Linked DNA regions of Homo sapiens. The protein of the gene in region 2 purifies or fractionates together with the protein of the main gene of each other region. This does not show direct contact. Each region holds a gene or a part of one and is shown on either strand. Other genes may lie near its edges.

Region 1 (4,106 bases), on a different chromosome or scaffold from region 2:
TGTAGAACAGAAGGCACATATAGTAATAAGAAATTACTCTGTCAAATTGATGCTGCTCTGAATGGTTTTTCATTTAATTACTTCTCCTGGAGGCAGGGAGGAATATGATAGATGGGCATTTATGCTTTTTAGAGGAAAAAAAAAACTTCCATGGGAAACAGTTTGTAGTTTTATAAACCCTGTTAAAGTGAACACTTTCTTTTCCTTTTTAAATGTGTCTTAATGTTTTTCAGTGTATGGATTATAAATACAAGTAAACGTGGCTAGTTTGAATCAAGATGCACTTTCAAATACATTTGTACACAAGCACTATGATTATACTTCCTGTTTCTAAATTTAAAGGGGACATTCCAAATGGCTGCAAACTAATCAGGAATCGATCGGATTGTAAGGACATTGATTGGACGACATATACCTGTGTGCTAGGATTTCAAGTATTTGGTAAGGAAATGACACCTGATGTAAAGAAGTGGTTTGTGGGTTTTTTATATATAATATTTACTTGCTTAAATTTATAAATGAAAAATAGTCTGTGTATTCTTTAGCTTTATCACTATTAATGTCAGCCTCAGAGAAATTAAATGTATTAGGATTGAACCAACATGGGATTTGTATTTTGCAGAATCAAGCACTTTTGGTCCTTAATATGAAAGACAAGGAATTTACATAGTAGTACAGATTACCTTCCCGTTTTTCTTTAAGTGAAAATTGAAGTTATTAAATTTGGAAAGGCATTTTTAAATAGCTTGAGATACATGCCATACAATTCACCTAAAGTGTAAAATTCAGGCTGGGCGCAGTGGCTCACACCTGTAATTCTAGCACTTTGGGAGGCCGAGGTGGGCAAATCACCTGAGTTCAGGAGTTCGAGACCAGCCTGGCCAACATGGTGAAACCCTGTCTCTGCTAAAAATACAAAAATTAGCTGGGCGTGGTGACGTGCACCTGTAATCCCAGTTACGTGGGAGGCTGAGGCAGGAGAACTGCTTGAACCTGGGAGGCAGAGGCTGCAGTGAGCTGAGATTGTGCCACTGCACTCCAGCCTGGGTGACAGAGTGAGACTCCAGCTCATAAATAAATAAAGTGTAAAATTCAGTGGTTTTTGTATACTTAGTTGTGTGACCATCAAGGTCTAATTTTAGAACATTTTCATTACCCCACAAAGAAACTCTGTACCCATTAACAGTTACCCCATCTCTCTTATCCTCTACCCCACCCCCCAGCAACCACTAATCTGTTATTGATTTGCCTTTTCTGTATAGTTTATATAAGGGGAATCATACAATATTTGATCCACTGAGACTAGCTTCTGTGATTTAGCATAACGTTTTCAAGGTTTATCCACGTTGTAGCATACATCAGTACTTTACTCTTTTTATGGCTGAGTAATATCCCATTGTATGGATAGATGACATTTTGTTAATTCATTCATCAGCTGATGGACACTTGGGCTGTTTCTACTTTTCAGCTATTATGAATACCACTGCTGTGAACAGTCATGTGCAGGTTTTTGTGTAGACATGTTTTCATTTCTCTTGGGTATTTACCTAGGAGTAGAATTGCTGAGTCAAATGGTAACTGTATGTTTACTCTTTTGAGCAACTGCCAGACTGTTTTCCACAGTGACTACATTTACATTTCCACCAGCAGTGTACGAGGGTTCTGGTTCCTCCATGTCCTTGTCAGTGTATTTTATTATTATTTTGCGTGTGGATGTCTAGTTGCCTTACACCACTTGTTGAAATACAAAGGCATTTTTAGGAGAATTATATAAAGATAACTATGTGGGGCTTCTTCCTAATCTGACGTTTTGTAACTTTCTGGAAATCCGACCTCTATGACTGTTTTCTAAGCCTTCCTCAGTATTTAGGTATCCTTCTGAAAGGGTTAGAAGATAGATGGAAAAGTTAAAATAATAAAGCGTTATTTGCAAAGAATTAAAAAGAAGTGTTATGCTCAGGTAATTAAAATACTGGATATGGATGTGGCACCAATACCTAAAGCAATACACAAAAATTAATATTTTCTCTTTAACAATTTATCTCTGCCTTCTGAAAATTGGGTTCTCCAGCCTGATCATAGATCTGAACATTTCTTTATGCTATGTGCATTAGGAAAATAATCCATTATAGGTGGTTGTTCTAAACACAAGTGCTATCAAGACAGAGAAGCCTAATAGGCCAGGAAGGAATTAAAAACAAAATAATTCTGTCCATAAACAATTTCATTATTCTACGTGAAAATGAAGCAGTGACCCATAGCTGGTAGCTTCTGTGGTTATTTTAATGAAGACATTATTTATTTAAATTATTAAGAGAGACCAATTTTAAAGTATTTTGACTTGTTTTTAGCAAATTTACCAAAAACATATTTGTTCTCTAGAGTAGCATTCAACCACAAGTGGCCAACATCTCAACCCTTAAATCTTCCATAGTTTCAATCTAGCCTAATAGAGGTTTGTGAAAATTATGTTCGACATGATCATTAGTGCTGCATAATGATTCAGAATAATTAAATTTGACGTGTCTTATCTTGGGACATAATCTTTCCAGGAAAATTACATGGGATAGCATGCTAAACTAGTGGATGGCCTATGCTTTCTAAAAGAAATAATCTCTCTGAGGTTTTCTTGGAGGTGCTTGCCTGAAAGAAAACCTAGACTCCACTTCGAAGACTTGGTGTTATGGCTTTGTTTTTGAACCTTGTCTATACAAGTAACTGATTCCCTCCATCCAGAAACTTTAAAAAGGAAGAGCTTATTGCTGAGGTGTAAGTCAAGCTGAAAGTAAAATAAATTATTAGCACCACCTGCTGGTTACCATTGAGTACCATTGAGTCTTTAAGTTTTCCATTTTGGGGCTATTTTGGTTTTTTATTAGTTAGATTTTGGACAGGACTTGATTTGAATGAAGAACAGTGTGAGCCACTGAGAAATTTGTAAAGGAAATGTTAACAGCTAAGAGTTTGAACATAGATAAAAGCTAAACAGATTCTAAAATAAAATAAACATATATAGCATCACAGTTATATTTCTTCAGCTAATTTTTCTGCATCCCTGTGTTTCCATATCAAAGGTGTCTGGCCAGAAGGATCTGATGGGACAGATATCAATGCACTGGTGCGATCCCACAATAGAAAGGTGATAGCTGTTGCCGATGACTTTTGTAAAGTCCATCTGTTTCAGTATCCCTGCTCCAAAGCAAAGGTAAACTCACTTTAATAGAAACTAATGTTATAAGGCCTTCTGTCCAGGGATGATTTTGCATCCATAGCAAGAAAATATAGGTTACTGATTCCTCTCCATGATACTCCAGTGCACAGAGGGAGATAAGGGCCATCGGTGAGCATCCATCCAGGCAGTGCTTGTCTTCTCCCCCTTCCTAAGGCTAAGGAGAAGTGAGCTGTAGAAATGACGACCGATGATGTTATTCCTGTTTCTTTATTGTCCGGTTGCTTTTTATTTTGATTTGTTGGCAATTTAAAATCTCTCCTAAATATTTTAAAATATTTTATTTGTTGGATACATATTCAACGTTATAAAACTAATGGAACTGTTTCCCGAATGTCCTGTAATCCTACCAACATAGTAAATGTTCCCCTAACCATTTCAGAAGAATAATTACTAAGCTCTGGCAAGTATACGACCAACATCTAGAAGAGACAGACTTTTAGCTATTTTTTTAAACATATAGTGTGAAAATACAGAGATGTCCAATTCTTCTGTTTCGTTTTTCCTATGTAAAGTGATAATAAAAGGAAATAACGGCTAGCCTTACTCCTGAGATTTGATGACTTCTGGCTTTAAATTGGATTGCCCATTTCACAAGCTGAGTTTACCCCCCTTACGTATCACCTCCATTTCTGAAACAGGCATGTCAAGAATGAGTTTAATTTTCCTGTCTGTCTGATTTATTTCATATAGGCTCCCAGTCACAAGTACAGTGCCCACAGCAGCCATGTCACCAATGTCAGTTTTACTCACAATGACAGTCACCTGATATCAACTGGTGGAAAAGACATGAGCATCATTCAGTGGAAACTTGTGGAAAAGTTATCTTTGCCTCAGAATGAGACTGTAGCGGATACTACTCTAACCAAAGCCCCCG
Region 2 (4,258 bases):
CTAAATTTTGGAATCTGGAATGACCATAAGGCACTTGTTCAATGCCAAAATGTCTGTTGCGATTGACCTGTCACTTTTTCCATGATGCAGATTTATAATTCCACATGGGATGGGTGATCTGAGCGTGCGATGATTTACCATGGCCTCAGTTACAGCACTCGCTGAGGGGCGGGGTTGCAAGTGCTCTCCAGTCGCAGGGACTCAATCTGAGTCCTCCCTGGGGTCAGTCGCTTTAGTTGCTTTGTGTTTTCCTTTCTTGAGCAGCCCAGATGGCAGTTACACAGAGGAGCAGAGTCAGGAGAGTGAGATGAAGGTGCTGGCCACGGATTTTGACGACGAGTTTGATGATGAGGAGCCCCTCCCTGCCATAGGGACGTGCAAAGCTCTCTACACATTTGAAGGTGACATTTCATGTCTGCTGGATTCCCCTGCCTTTTATAAACCATAATATCTGAGTTACTCTTCTTTCACTTTTCCTTCCTTCCTTCCTTCTGATCATTTTTATTCCTTTGTCCTTCCTTCCTTCCTTCCTACCTTCCCTTCCCCTTCCCCTTCCCCTTCCCCTTCCTTCCTTCCCTTCCCTTCCCTCCCTTCCCTTCCTTCCCTTCCTTCCCTTCCTTCCTTCCTTCCTTTTTTTCATACAGGGTCTCGCTCTCTTGCCCAAGTTAGAGTGCAGTGGTGCAATCATGGCTCACTGCAGCCTTGACCTCCTGGGCTCAAGTGATCCTCCAACCTCAGCCTCCTGAGTAGCTGGGACTACAGGCAAGCACCACCATGTCCGGCTCATTTTTGTACTTTTGTACTTTTTGTACTTTTCAGTAGAGACAGGGTCTCACTATGTTGCCCAGGCTGGTGTTGAACTCCTGGATTCAAGCAGTACTCCTGCCTCAGCCTCCCAAAGTGCTGTGATCACAGGTGTGAGCCACTGTGCCTAGCCACACTCTTCTCTTTCTGTGACCAGAACTTTCTTTAGAAGCCTTCCAGATCTGGCCGGGCATGGTGGCTCACACCTGTAATCCTAGAACTTTGGGAGGCTGAGGCGGGCAGGTCACTTGAGGCCAGGAGTTCAAGACCAGCCTCGCCAACATGGTGAAATCCCATCTCTACTAAAAATACAAAAACTGGCTGGGCATGCTGGCAGGCGCCTGTAATCCCAGCTGCTCGGGAGGCTGAGGCACGAGAATCACTTGAACCCGGGAGGCGGAGGTTGCAGTGAGCTGAGATAGCGCCACTGTACTCCAGCCTGGGTGACAGAACGAGACTCTGTCTCAAAAAAAAAAAAAAAGCTGCAGCAGCAGCCTTCCAGATCCTTCTCTACTATGCTTTTATCCTACTCATGGTATGATTATTATTTGGTTGTATATTTTGACTTTTGGTTCGTATAACTTAACAGCTTCCAGAGAGCTTGCTTCACTGCAGCAGACGATAGGGAGGATGATCATTTCATCCATTCATTTAATATCTAGTATCTATAGCGCTCCTGTCTTGTAAAGGCCCATGAAGTGGGGGGATGCAGGTCGTATGATATGGCACCTGCCCAGAGGGAAATCAGGCAGACACACTTAAGGAGCAAGCAGCGGCTGGGTGCAGTGGCTCACGCCTGTAATCCCAGCACTTTGGGAGGCCGAGGCAGGCGGATCGTGAGGTCAGGAGATCGAGACCATCCTGGCCAACATGGTGAAACCCCATCTCTACTAAAAATACAAAAATCAGCTAAGCGTGGTAGCGCATGCCTGTAATTCCAGCTACTTGGGAGGCTGAAGCAGGAGACTCACTTAAACCAGGAGTCGGAGGTGGCAGTGAGCCGAGGTCGTGCCACTTTACTCCAGCCTGGCAACAGAGCAAGACTCCCTCTCAAAAAAAAAAAGCAGGCAGTTTGCAGTGTTTGCCAGAAGAGGGATACAGAGGAACGGGGAGGACAGGGGAGAATGAGGTCGCTTCCTTAAGGAAGTTTGGAGAACTTGCCATGGCATGGGGGGTGTGGCCAGAAATGGGTGTGGTGTGGCTGGAGCTTAGATGTCTTAAGTCCTAATAGTGAAATGTGGCACTAAAGAGTGGGAAGTGCCAATGGGGGCGAGGTAGGGAAACATCTGGGTTTTATGTGGCAAACATTGAGGAGCTATGGGAGGTCCCCTAGCAGGGTGTCGATGCAGTCAGAGCTGTACCTTAGGAAAGTCATCGTCAGATGTGTAGGATCCACTGGAAGACATGGAGGATGGTTAGAAAGACTAGCCCAGGCCGGGCATGGTGGCTCACGCCTGTAATCCTAGAACTTTGGGAGGCTGAGGCAGGCAGATCACCTGAGGTCAGGAGTTCTAGACCAGCCTGCCCAACATGATGAAACCCCGTCTCTACTAAAAATACAAAAATCAGTGAGGCGTGGTGGCGGGCGCCTGTAATCCCAGCTACTCGGGAGGCTGAAGCATGAGAATTGCTTGAACCCAGGAGGCAGAGGTTGCAGTGAGCCAAGATCGTGCCATTGTACTCCAGTATGGGCAACAGAGGGCAACTCTGTCTCAAAAAAAAGAAAGAAAAGATAAACTAGCTTAGTGTTTCTAAACCAATGAACCTTGAAACGATGTCCTGCAGAGCGTTAATAAGGAGGCCATGAAAGAAGCTCTCAGGCCAGGCTCAGTGGCTCACACCTGTAATCCCAGCACTTTGGGAGGCTGAGGCCAAGAGTTCAGGGCTACAGTGAGCTATGATCGTACCACTGCACTCCAGCCTAGGCGATAGTGTGAAACCCTCTCTAAAAAATAAATAAATAAATAAATAAAATTACGAAAAAGTTGCATTTTAATATAATGAATAAATTTTTAAAACTAGCAATCAGAGCTCAAGTAAGTTTGGGAAGCCCTGGGATAAATAAATTTTACAGATTTCTTTACTACAGGACTTTTCAGAGCCTTTAATAGACTAAATGTTCATTGTGACAAAATAAGAAAGACGTACCAGTTTAAACGTTCCCAGTTTTACTTCATATTCCAACCATCCCCCACCGTACCCTGTTGCCCTGTTAACAGCTCCCTAAACTCTTTGCCTTGCAGAAAACTGGGGGGTGGTGGGCAGCCTTTGAAATGATCCTAGCAGAAGGTCTTGGGGGCCTTGTTCAAGGAATGGATACAGAGATGCCGCCATTGACAAACTGCATATATTCGGGGCTGATCAAAAGCCAGGAACAAAAAGGAGAGGAAATCCAAGACGGCTCCCAGAGTTGCATTCCTGGGAGGACAGAGAGGTCTAGGGAAGTGGAAAAGCAGGAGGATATAGTTAGGAGGAAGAACAGTGAATCCAGGTTCATCTATGTTGTTTCAGGTGTTGGGGCCATGTCTAGGTGGCAGTGTGCTGCAGACAGTGGGAAAAGTGGAATCTTGGCTGCAGAAAGTACCAGAATGGAAGCAATATGTGAGGACAGTGTTTAAAGAGGAGCAGTTGGGCCGGGCGTGGTGGCTCACGCCTGTAATCCCAGCGCTTTGGGAGGCCGAGGCGGGTGGATCACCTGAGGTCAGGAGTTCAAGACCAGCCTGACCAACATGGTGAAACCTCGTCTCTACTAAAAATACAAAATTAGCCGGGCGTGGTGGCACATGCCTGTAATCTCAGCTACTCGGGAGGCCGAGGCAGGAGAATCACTTGAACCCGGGACAAGTGGCATCACACTCCAGCCTGGGCAACAGAGCAAGACTCTGTCTCAAAACAAACAAACAACAACAACAAAAAAATTGGGAGGCTGAGGCTGGTGGATCACCTAAGGTCAGGAGTCAGACCAGCCTGACCAACATGGTGAAACCCCATCTCTACTAAAAATAGAAAGGTTAGCCGGGTGTGGTGGTGCACACCTATAGTCTCAGCTGCTCGGGAGGCTGAGACAGGAGAATCGCTTGAACCGGGGAGGTGGAGGTTGCAGTGAGTTGAGATTGCACCACAGCACTCTGGCCTGGGCAACAAGAGCAAGACTCCATCCCCCACAACCCCCCCAAAAAATAACAGACAAAAGAGAAGCAGTTGGAGCCACGAGGGTACCTTTCTCCTGAGAGAGATCCAAGTGAGACAGAAGAAGACTAGAGAAGAGAACCAAAGATTTATCCAGTGAGAAATACTTACCATTCTGGGAGGGAGGAGAAAGAGGGCCCTGGAGGACTTAGAGAGGGTCCCTAGAGAGACAGAGGTAAGAACCTGGACATTTCTGTGCAGAAGGAGATGGTTTTGAGGCAGTGGGTGAGGGGTCCGTGCATCTGAGAAGGTCCGAGTGGGGTGA
Region 3 (3,511 bases), on a different chromosome or scaffold from region 2:
TAAGAGACATGGGAGTGAAATTCACACCCACTCTGGCTTTCATACCATGGGTCTGAACATTAGCCCATGGTGTTTCTTGGCCATACTGACCTGTGCCATTTCAGCTGCATTCATCTCAGTTGGTGTTGTCTGCTGGCTGCTCTTTCTGATTTCCCACAGGAGCAGTAAGAACCTGAGGAAGAGTAGGGTCAGAGGAGTCTGGGAGAATGAGGAAATATGAGAGCCCCAGGAACTGAAAAGGCCTGTGAGAGACTCTGAGCTTCCTGGGAACAGGTATAGGTTCTTTTTATTTCAATAATAACAGAAACAACTGTCAAAACCATGTGCCTGTACTATTTGGAGTGCTGTCCTTGCAGAATCTCATTATAAGAACCTTAGGAAATAGGCACATCATCTCCTGGATAGAATCCTAGGAAATGGGCACTATAATGGGCACTTTATCCCATTTTATAAACATGGAAATTGAGGCACAGAGAGATTAAGTACTTTCCCAAGGTCATACAGCTAGTGATGGAGGAGCTAGCATTTGAACCCGGAGTTTTTAGTCTATTGAGTTTAACCGACAGATCATACTGTGTTTTGGTAGGGAGGGAGGGAGGAAGCAAGCAAGTGAACAAATGAGTCTGGGATTTAGGACTTGCCAGACAAACAAGGCCCAAGAGGCAAGTGTGCAGGTGGGTGTAGTTGGGAGTCAGCAGAGTTGGGTTGGAATTCAAGCTTTGCCACCTGCTGGCTATAAACCTTGGTTGGGTAAGTAACCCAAGGTAAATGAGATCATCTCTGTAAAACTCTTAGCCTTGTGCCTGGCACATAGTAAATGCTTAATAAGGGTTCACTGTTAGTATTACTGTTACTGATAACATACAAATAGATTGTATTAATGGACCATAATTGCAACTGTATAAAACAAATTCCATGTTTGGCCAGGCGCAGTGGCTCAAGCCTGTAATCCCATCACTTCGGGAGGCCGAGGTGGGCAGATCACGAGGTCAGGAGATCAAGACCATCCTGGCTAACACAGTGAAACCCCATCTCTACTAAAAATACAAAAAAATTAGCCAGGCATGGTGGCGGGTGCCTGTATTCCCAGCTACTTGGGAGGCTGAGGCAGGAGAATGGCGCGAACCCAGGGGGCGGAGCTTGCAGTGAGCTGTAATTGTGCCACTGCACTCCAGCCTGGGCGACAGAGCGAGACTCCGTCTCAAAAAAAAAAAAAAAAACCACAACAACAACAACAAAAATTCCATGTTGACAAGGATGGGAATATGAGAACATGGAAACAGCTATGAAAAGACATAAGAGAATTAGGAGGATTTTCTTTAATATATCATTTTTTAAAAAAAAACTTGCTTGTATTTGTTTATTTTTTAAATAGAGACAGGGTTTTACCATGTTGCCCAGACTAGTCTTGAACTCCTGGGCTCAAGCGATCTTGGCCTCCCTAAGTGCTGGGATTACAGTCATGAGCCACTGTGCCCCGCCATTTTTTAATAAACCTTTCTAATGGAACAAGTAAAACACATGCAGTGGATGCTCAGCAGGCCTTGAGTGTGTGAATGAAAAATATTTGAACTTGTTTTTACTGGTTGATTTCATTGCTTAAAAAACATACCTTAGCTGGACGCAGTGGCGTGCGCCTGTAGTCCCAGCTACTCATCTCTTAAAAAAAAAGTTTTATGCTTGTTAATTTCATAAATGCTAGAGGGATCACCCTAATCAAATAAAGCTACTCAAAAATAAAATATGAAAGGTGTTAGTGGGATACAGCTTTCTAGTTTTTTGCCACTAGTGGATAGGTTGGAATTTAAATTCTTCGGATATTGGAACCAGAACAGGCTGTAACTGATTATTTTTGCTGTGATTCGTGCTTACTGGAGCCTCGGGAAAGAGGGAGACAACATGTAAAGAGAAGCAATCTGTTTGGAAAATGAAAATACAGTTAAATTGCTAATGAACCCTTGTCAAAATCAAATGTCTCCCCTTAGAGGCTGATGATTGTCTAGTCTAATATGCATTTTTTTTGAGTGGGTCAATTGGACTCTAAGACCAACAAGATAAAAAGGCAGCCTTGCATGTCACTTGGACCACAGCTGTCTGGCCATGCAGCATGCCTTCACTGCTGCTGAAGAAAAGCAGCTGCTTGTTGAGAATCTCAAATTCTCAGATCCTAATTGCCTGGCCCTGACTCTAAGCTGAAACCTGCTACTGTCTGCCTTGAGCTGTTTTAGCCTCAACACGAGCTATGCTGAACTGAAAGCAGGCACAGGCTCAATGACCAGGACTCAGACGTTGGGGCCGTTGGAGATTAAGGACCCCCTCCGTGGAGCGCTAAACTATGAAAACGTCCTGGAACCTGGCTGAAAAGGGCTTATTCTCTAATGGGACCATCTAAGATCAAGCTGCTGATAGGCTCTTTGTCTCTAATACAGAGGCTAATTGCATTCCTAACTTCTAATATTTGCCAAACGCTCCAAGCTGGGGAAGGGCACATCGCAAGGACTATGACCTCTCCTCCTGCTTTTGACAGACCAGACTCAAACCTTCTCTGGGGCTTCTCTCACTGCTGTTGACTTGTTGCATTCAGCTTTTGGGATTAGTTGCAGCTTGCAACAGTGGACTGACAGCCTGACTCTACTTCCCTCACTTTTCTCCCAGCACACACAGCTTAGTAAGGTAGGTGGATTATTAAAACGTAGCTGTCCCCAGAAAGGTATTAGGCTTTTCTAGTCTGCTCATTGAATAATCAGGACAAAAGGGGTAGAAGATTATGTAAACACATTTTGAAATTTTTAAAAATTCAGGGTTTCATCCTTTATTAGTTTGCTAAGGATACCATAACAAAGTACCACAAACTGAGTGACTTACACAATAGAAACTTATTTTCCTGCAGTTCTGGAGGCTGAAAGTCCAGGACAAGGTGTCGACAGCTTTAGATTCTTCTGAGGCCTCTCTGCTTGGCTTGCAGATGGCTGCCTTCTTACTGTGTCCTTGTATGGTCCCTCTGTCTGGGTGTCTGTGTCCTAATCTTCTCTTTTAATAAGGATACCACTCAGGTTGGATTAGGGCCCATCCTAACAATCCCATTTTAACTTAGTTACCTCTTCAGGGCCTATCTTCAAATATACTCACATTTTGAGGTACAGGTAGATGGTTAGGGCTTCAGCATGAATTTTTGTGGGGACATAATTCAACCCTCCACACATAATTACCAATTTCTGAATGTCTTTCTGGTTAAGTTGCATAAAAACGTTTATCTACTTGAACTCTAGGATGATAGTTAAAAAAAAAAATGTTGGCCAGGCGCAGTGATGGATGCATATGATCCCAGCACTTTGGGAGGCCGAGGTGGGCAGATTGCTTGAGTTCAGGAGTTCAAGACCAGCCTGGCAACATGGTGAAATCCTGTGTCTACAAAAAATGCAAAAATTAGCTGGACATGATGGCATGTGCCTTTGGTTCCAGCTACTTAGGAGGCTGAGGTAGGAGGATGGCTTGAGCCCAGGAGGCGGAG
Region 4 (4,258 bases), on a different chromosome or scaffold from region 2:
AGCCACCATGCCCGGCCAGACAACTTAGTTATTAAACAAACTATAGCATATCAGAACAGAGAAGTATAGCCATTAAAATAGTAAGTGTGAAGAATGTGTAAAACATGAGGAATGCTTATAAAATAGTGCTATGTGAAAAAGGAAATGCATTATAGAATGTGTACACTAAATAACTACCGAAATGATGCCTATATGGGTAACACGCTGAAAGAGAACATTAAGAAATAGATTAGGTCAAAGGAAAATGTTTTTACTTTTGGATTCTTAAGCAAGTCAATTTGGCATGACTATGAGTGAGCAGATAATGATCTGTGCATGACTCTTGGATAAAACTTCAGGGAGTTAAACAGCTTTTTGGAAAGTGGAGTTTCCTCCCTCTTTAGATCTAAGTGGTGACTCCCTATTTGGGACTATTAATTGCATTCTTGCCTGAAGGGGAATACTGACTTTCAAGATGGTATCTTAAGTCTGGGGAGCTGTTTCCTTGCCTAAGAAAGGACCTGATAAGCATTGTCTGTTTTGGAGAGGTCAGTGACTAGGGCCTTGCCTTCTTGCTCCCATCAGAACCCTCCTGGCATCATGAGCATCCTGGATGACGTGTGCGCCACGATGCATGCGGTGGGTGAGGGGGCAGATCAGACGCTGCTCCAGAAACTTCAGATGCAGATTGGGAGTCATGAGCACTTCAACAGTTGGAACCAAGGCTTCATCATTCATCATTATGCTGGGAAGGTATGGCCAATATCCATTTTAATGTCTATCTGTTTTAAGCCTTTGGGTTTGTGATCTGGTTTCTCATGAAGCAAATCATATGGCTCGCCGTATTTTATTGATTCAACAAACGGAATTTATTAACTATCAAAGGAAGCAAAACAAAAGATTGTATATACTACTGCATTTTTTTGTATGTACATTTATTTTTACATTGTAGAAGAAGCTACTACTTTTTTACAGCATATAAATGAACATAGGTATAAACCAGCAAGAATGAAAGAAATAGCATATATCTAATGAAAAGAGTCGGAATTTCTAGAACACAATAAATACCTACATCCTACTTTTTGGGAACCAAATGCCAACTACATATATATAACATGGCAAGTGCTGCTACATCAGAGGTACCAAAAATACTTAGGAATTGTAAATAAGTATCGTCCAGCACGTGGATGCTCAATAAAAGAGCTGGAGGACTAAATAAATAGGAAAATCACTCTACCTACTTTCCTGTTTCCATCTTTTAGGAATTCAAGTTTATTCAAAATTTCGTTATATAATCCTGTATCTATGATCTCTTCAATAATTTCGGAATGGTAGTTTTAGGCAACTTTAAAGCTTAAGCTTATTCTGAATTTCCCAGAGTGTTTTTGCACTTTTTTTCAGATGGGCCTCTTCTTCAGGGGTCAGCTTTATCTTTATAAGGTTGGTAATACCGTTCTCTCCCAGGATACAAGGAATACTGAGGAATACTTCTTCATCTATTCCATAGAGGCCCTTAATTATGGTGGAAACTGGATGTATTCTCCTAAGATTCTTCAAAATACTTTCTGTTAAATCGGCCACAGATAGGCCAATGGCCCAAGAAGTATAACCTTTCATTTTAATAATCTCATAGGCAGTTGCAGTCACTTCTTTGTGGACATTTTTCCATTGCTCAGGATCTTTATCAGTTCCTATATCAGAGTTCAGATCCTTCAAAGGGACACCAGCTATGTTCACTCCACTCCACACAGGAACACTTGAGTCTCCATGCTCTCCGAGGATCCATCCATGGCAGCTTTCAGAATGGATACCAAGCTTTTGTCCAATCAAGAAACGAAAACGAGCAGTATCCAGATTACAGCCGCTTCCAATAATACGGTTTTTGGGAAATGCACTCAACTTCCAAGCTACATAAGTTAAGATATCCACTGGATTGGAAACAATAATCAGTTTGCAGTGGGGGCTGTACTGGACAATACTGGAAATCATTAACTTGAAGATGGCCACATTTCGCTGGACTAAATTAAGGCGCGTTTCTCCCTTTTCTTGGCGTGCACCTGCTGTGATAATCACTAGGTTGGAGTTTGCTGTGACAAAGTAATCTTTGCTACAAACAATATTTGGCATTTTCGTGAAAGGGCTGCCATGTTGAAGATCCATCGTCTCACCCTTCAGTTTGTCTTCATCAAGATCCACAAGGGCAAGTTCATCACTCAAGCCTTTTAATAAGATGCTGATAGCGCAGGCCATGCCCACCGATCCAGTTCCTATGATGGAGACCTTACTGTGATGAACGGGCTTCTCGGAAGTGAAACGCTCAATAAGCTCACTCTTCACAGTCGCCATCTTGCTCACGGGGGTGAAGAGCCAGGTGCCGTTGAGCGGGATGCGCGTTGCTTGACGCGGACACAGGGCCATCCCCAGGCATAGGAAATTCGCTCCCACCGAGCTCACTCTCTGGCTGGCCCGCACAACAGGCACAGTCCAACTCATGGCTGCTCACTGAAGAAGTGGAGAGAGAGAATGGAAAAAAGCTGCTGATCCGAACGTTGAGACGCCAAGAGAGCCGTTGGCAGGACCTTCAGCACTCTACGGCAGGTGCGCGTGCCCCGCCCCCTGGCCCTCTACTGCGGCTGCGCGGGCCTTGCCAGAGTCTCCGACACGTGCTTTCCGTGGGTGCTCAGACTAAGGCAGTGAAGGGCTGCTTCTCTAGCAAGTGATTTCTGGAGTTAGTTTTGCTAAGAGTATTATCAATAGTTGACATGCTTAAGAGGCTAACCGAGATCCCTGGAATTACTAGTTTTTTATTTTTAATATGAATGCTGAGGAAACATGCTTCTGTTAACTACAGATGAAAATAAGGTTACGTTTTCTGAACCGTGACCCTGCCAGGAAGGATAGGGCTCTATGCTTTGCGTACTGGTGGCTGCCTGCACCATCTCCCAGTGTCCCAGAATTGGGCGCCTGCTTTCTGGTCTATGGCGCTGGAGGCCTATTTTGAAAGGATTCCACTGCCTTGGTGCCAGTCCTGGCCAGGACCCACCCTGGGACAGTCGGCTGGGGCTTCAGCAGGGTAGGGGCCGGCTGGGAGTCACTCCAGCACTAAATCTCAGCATACTACTGCATATTTTTGGAAAATGAATCACCCTGCTACATGTATTAGCTGCTGAATAAATGGATTTTCGTCTTGCCTCTTGCTGGAATCACAGACTGGCATTCCTTGTCTCCCCATGCCTACTGGTAGTATAAATCAAGGCCCAGAGTGCACTTTTGGTGTTCTTATAAAGCCCATCAGTATTGGGTGCCTACTGGATGCCAGGCTGTGTGGGGCTGCTGATGATAAAAAAGTTAAGTTGAGGTCGTGGTCTTGGGGACTTCCTAGTGCTATGGAAATCCCCTGGTCTCATCCATCATCCCAGCTGATCTCTTGTTAAACAGAGTATCTGAGCATGAGTTTCTGGCCAGATTGGTGCAACTTTGATACCACTTCTGGGAGAAACTGCAAAGCCTCAGATGACATGGCTCATTGCAGTGAATTACTGAGCATGAGGGGCTTCACTTTTGCTCTGGCTTAGCTAAAATTTAGGAAAAGTATTGAGTATGTCACTTAGACACCCCTATGGATCCACTGAAGAAGGGGTATGGGGACTTGAGAGCTGGAGTTCTGATTACGGATCAGCTGGGCCATCCAGGCAGCCAGATACTCATCAGCATCTGCAGGCCTTCCCCACTAAGTCAGCTAACAAGTAAGACGTGCACAGCCTTCCTGTGACAGTGCACAATGAAATCCCAAATGCAACATCTGGAAATCCACATGTTGTGGTGAGGGTAGCCATGACAGCTTTGGTTTTTTGTTTGGTGAAATTAGATTTTTTGTTCAATAAATGATTTTGTTCAATTAATTACATTTTGTTCAATGAAATTCGATTTCTTTCCATTCTTGGCCAGGTATCCTATGACATGGATGGCTTTTGTGAAAGGAACCGGGATGTGCTTTTTATGGATCTCATCGAGCTTATGCAGAGCAGCGAGCTGTAAGTATGTTTTGCCATAGCTGACAGGGGATATAGGTTTGATGAAATTTTCAATATGAAAACAAACTTATGAGCTGGGTGTGGTGGTGTGTTCCTATAGTCCCAGCTACTCAGGAGGCTAAGGCAGGAGGATCACTTGATCCTAGGAGTTTGAGGCTGCACTGAGCTGTGATCACTCCTGTCAATAGCCACTGCCCTCCAGCCAGGCAACATAGGAACACTGTGTCTCTAATAAAGAAAAAAAC

Evidence for each region. Proteins that work in one complex are often made in the same cells at the same time.
Region 1: the proteins of FNBP1 (region 2) and EML4 fractionate together in Homo sapiens (co-fractionation; one large-scale study listed by BioGRID). This does not show direct contact.
Region 3: the proteins of FNBP1 (region 2) and DCTN5 fractionate together in Homo sapiens (co-fractionation; one large-scale study listed by BioGRID). This does not show direct contact.
Region 4: the proteins of FNBP1 (region 2) and MYO1E fractionate together in Homo sapiens (co-fractionation; one large-scale study listed by BioGRID). This does not show direct contact.

What each region holds. Positions count from the first base shown.
Region 1 is NC_000002.12:42,325,812-42,329,917, forward strand, and holds part of EML4 (echinoderm microtubule-associated protein-like 4), read left to right. Parts: intron 1-233; coding exon of another isoform or gene 234-247; exon of another isoform or gene 248-331; intron 332-342; coding exon 343-441; intron 442-3,074; coding exon 3,075-3,205; intron 3,206-3,922; coding exon 3,923-4,106. UniProt on the Homo sapiens protein: Essential for the formation and stability of microtubules (MTs). Required for the organization of the mitotic spindle and for the proper attachment of kinetochores to MTs. Promotes the recruitment of NUDC to the mitotic spindle for mitotic progression.
Region 2 is NC_000009.12:129,896,108-129,900,365, reverse strand, and holds part of FNBP1 (formin-binding protein 1), read left to right. Parts: intron 1-261; coding exon of another isoform or gene 262-264; coding exon 265-401; intron 402-4,258. UniProt on the Homo sapiens protein: May act as a link between RND2 signaling and regulation of the actin cytoskeleton. Required to coordinate membrane tubulation with reorganization of the actin cytoskeleton during the late stage of clathrin-mediated endocytosis.
Region 3 is NC_000016.10:23,671,925-23,675,435, forward strand, and holds part of DCTN5 (dynactin subunit 5), read left to right. Parts: 3' UTR 1-3,511. UniProt on the Homo sapiens protein: Part of the dynactin complex that activates the molecular motor dynein for ultra-processive transport along microtubules.
Region 4 is NC_000015.10:59,205,155-59,209,412, reverse strand, and holds part of MYO1E (unconventional myosin-Ie), read left to right. Parts: intron 1-564; coding exon 565-732; intron 733-824; exon of another isoform or gene 825-1,326; coding exon of another isoform or gene 1,327-2,472; exon of another isoform or gene 2,473-2,570; intron 2,571-3,927; coding exon 3,928-4,013; intron 4,014-4,258. Other genes in the region: LDHAL6B (L-lactate dehydrogenase A-like 6B), read right to left, coding at 1,327-2,472. UniProt on the Homo sapiens protein: Actin-based motor molecule with ATPase activity. Unconventional myosins serve in intracellular movements. Their highly divergent tails bind to membranous compartments, which are then moved relative to actin filaments.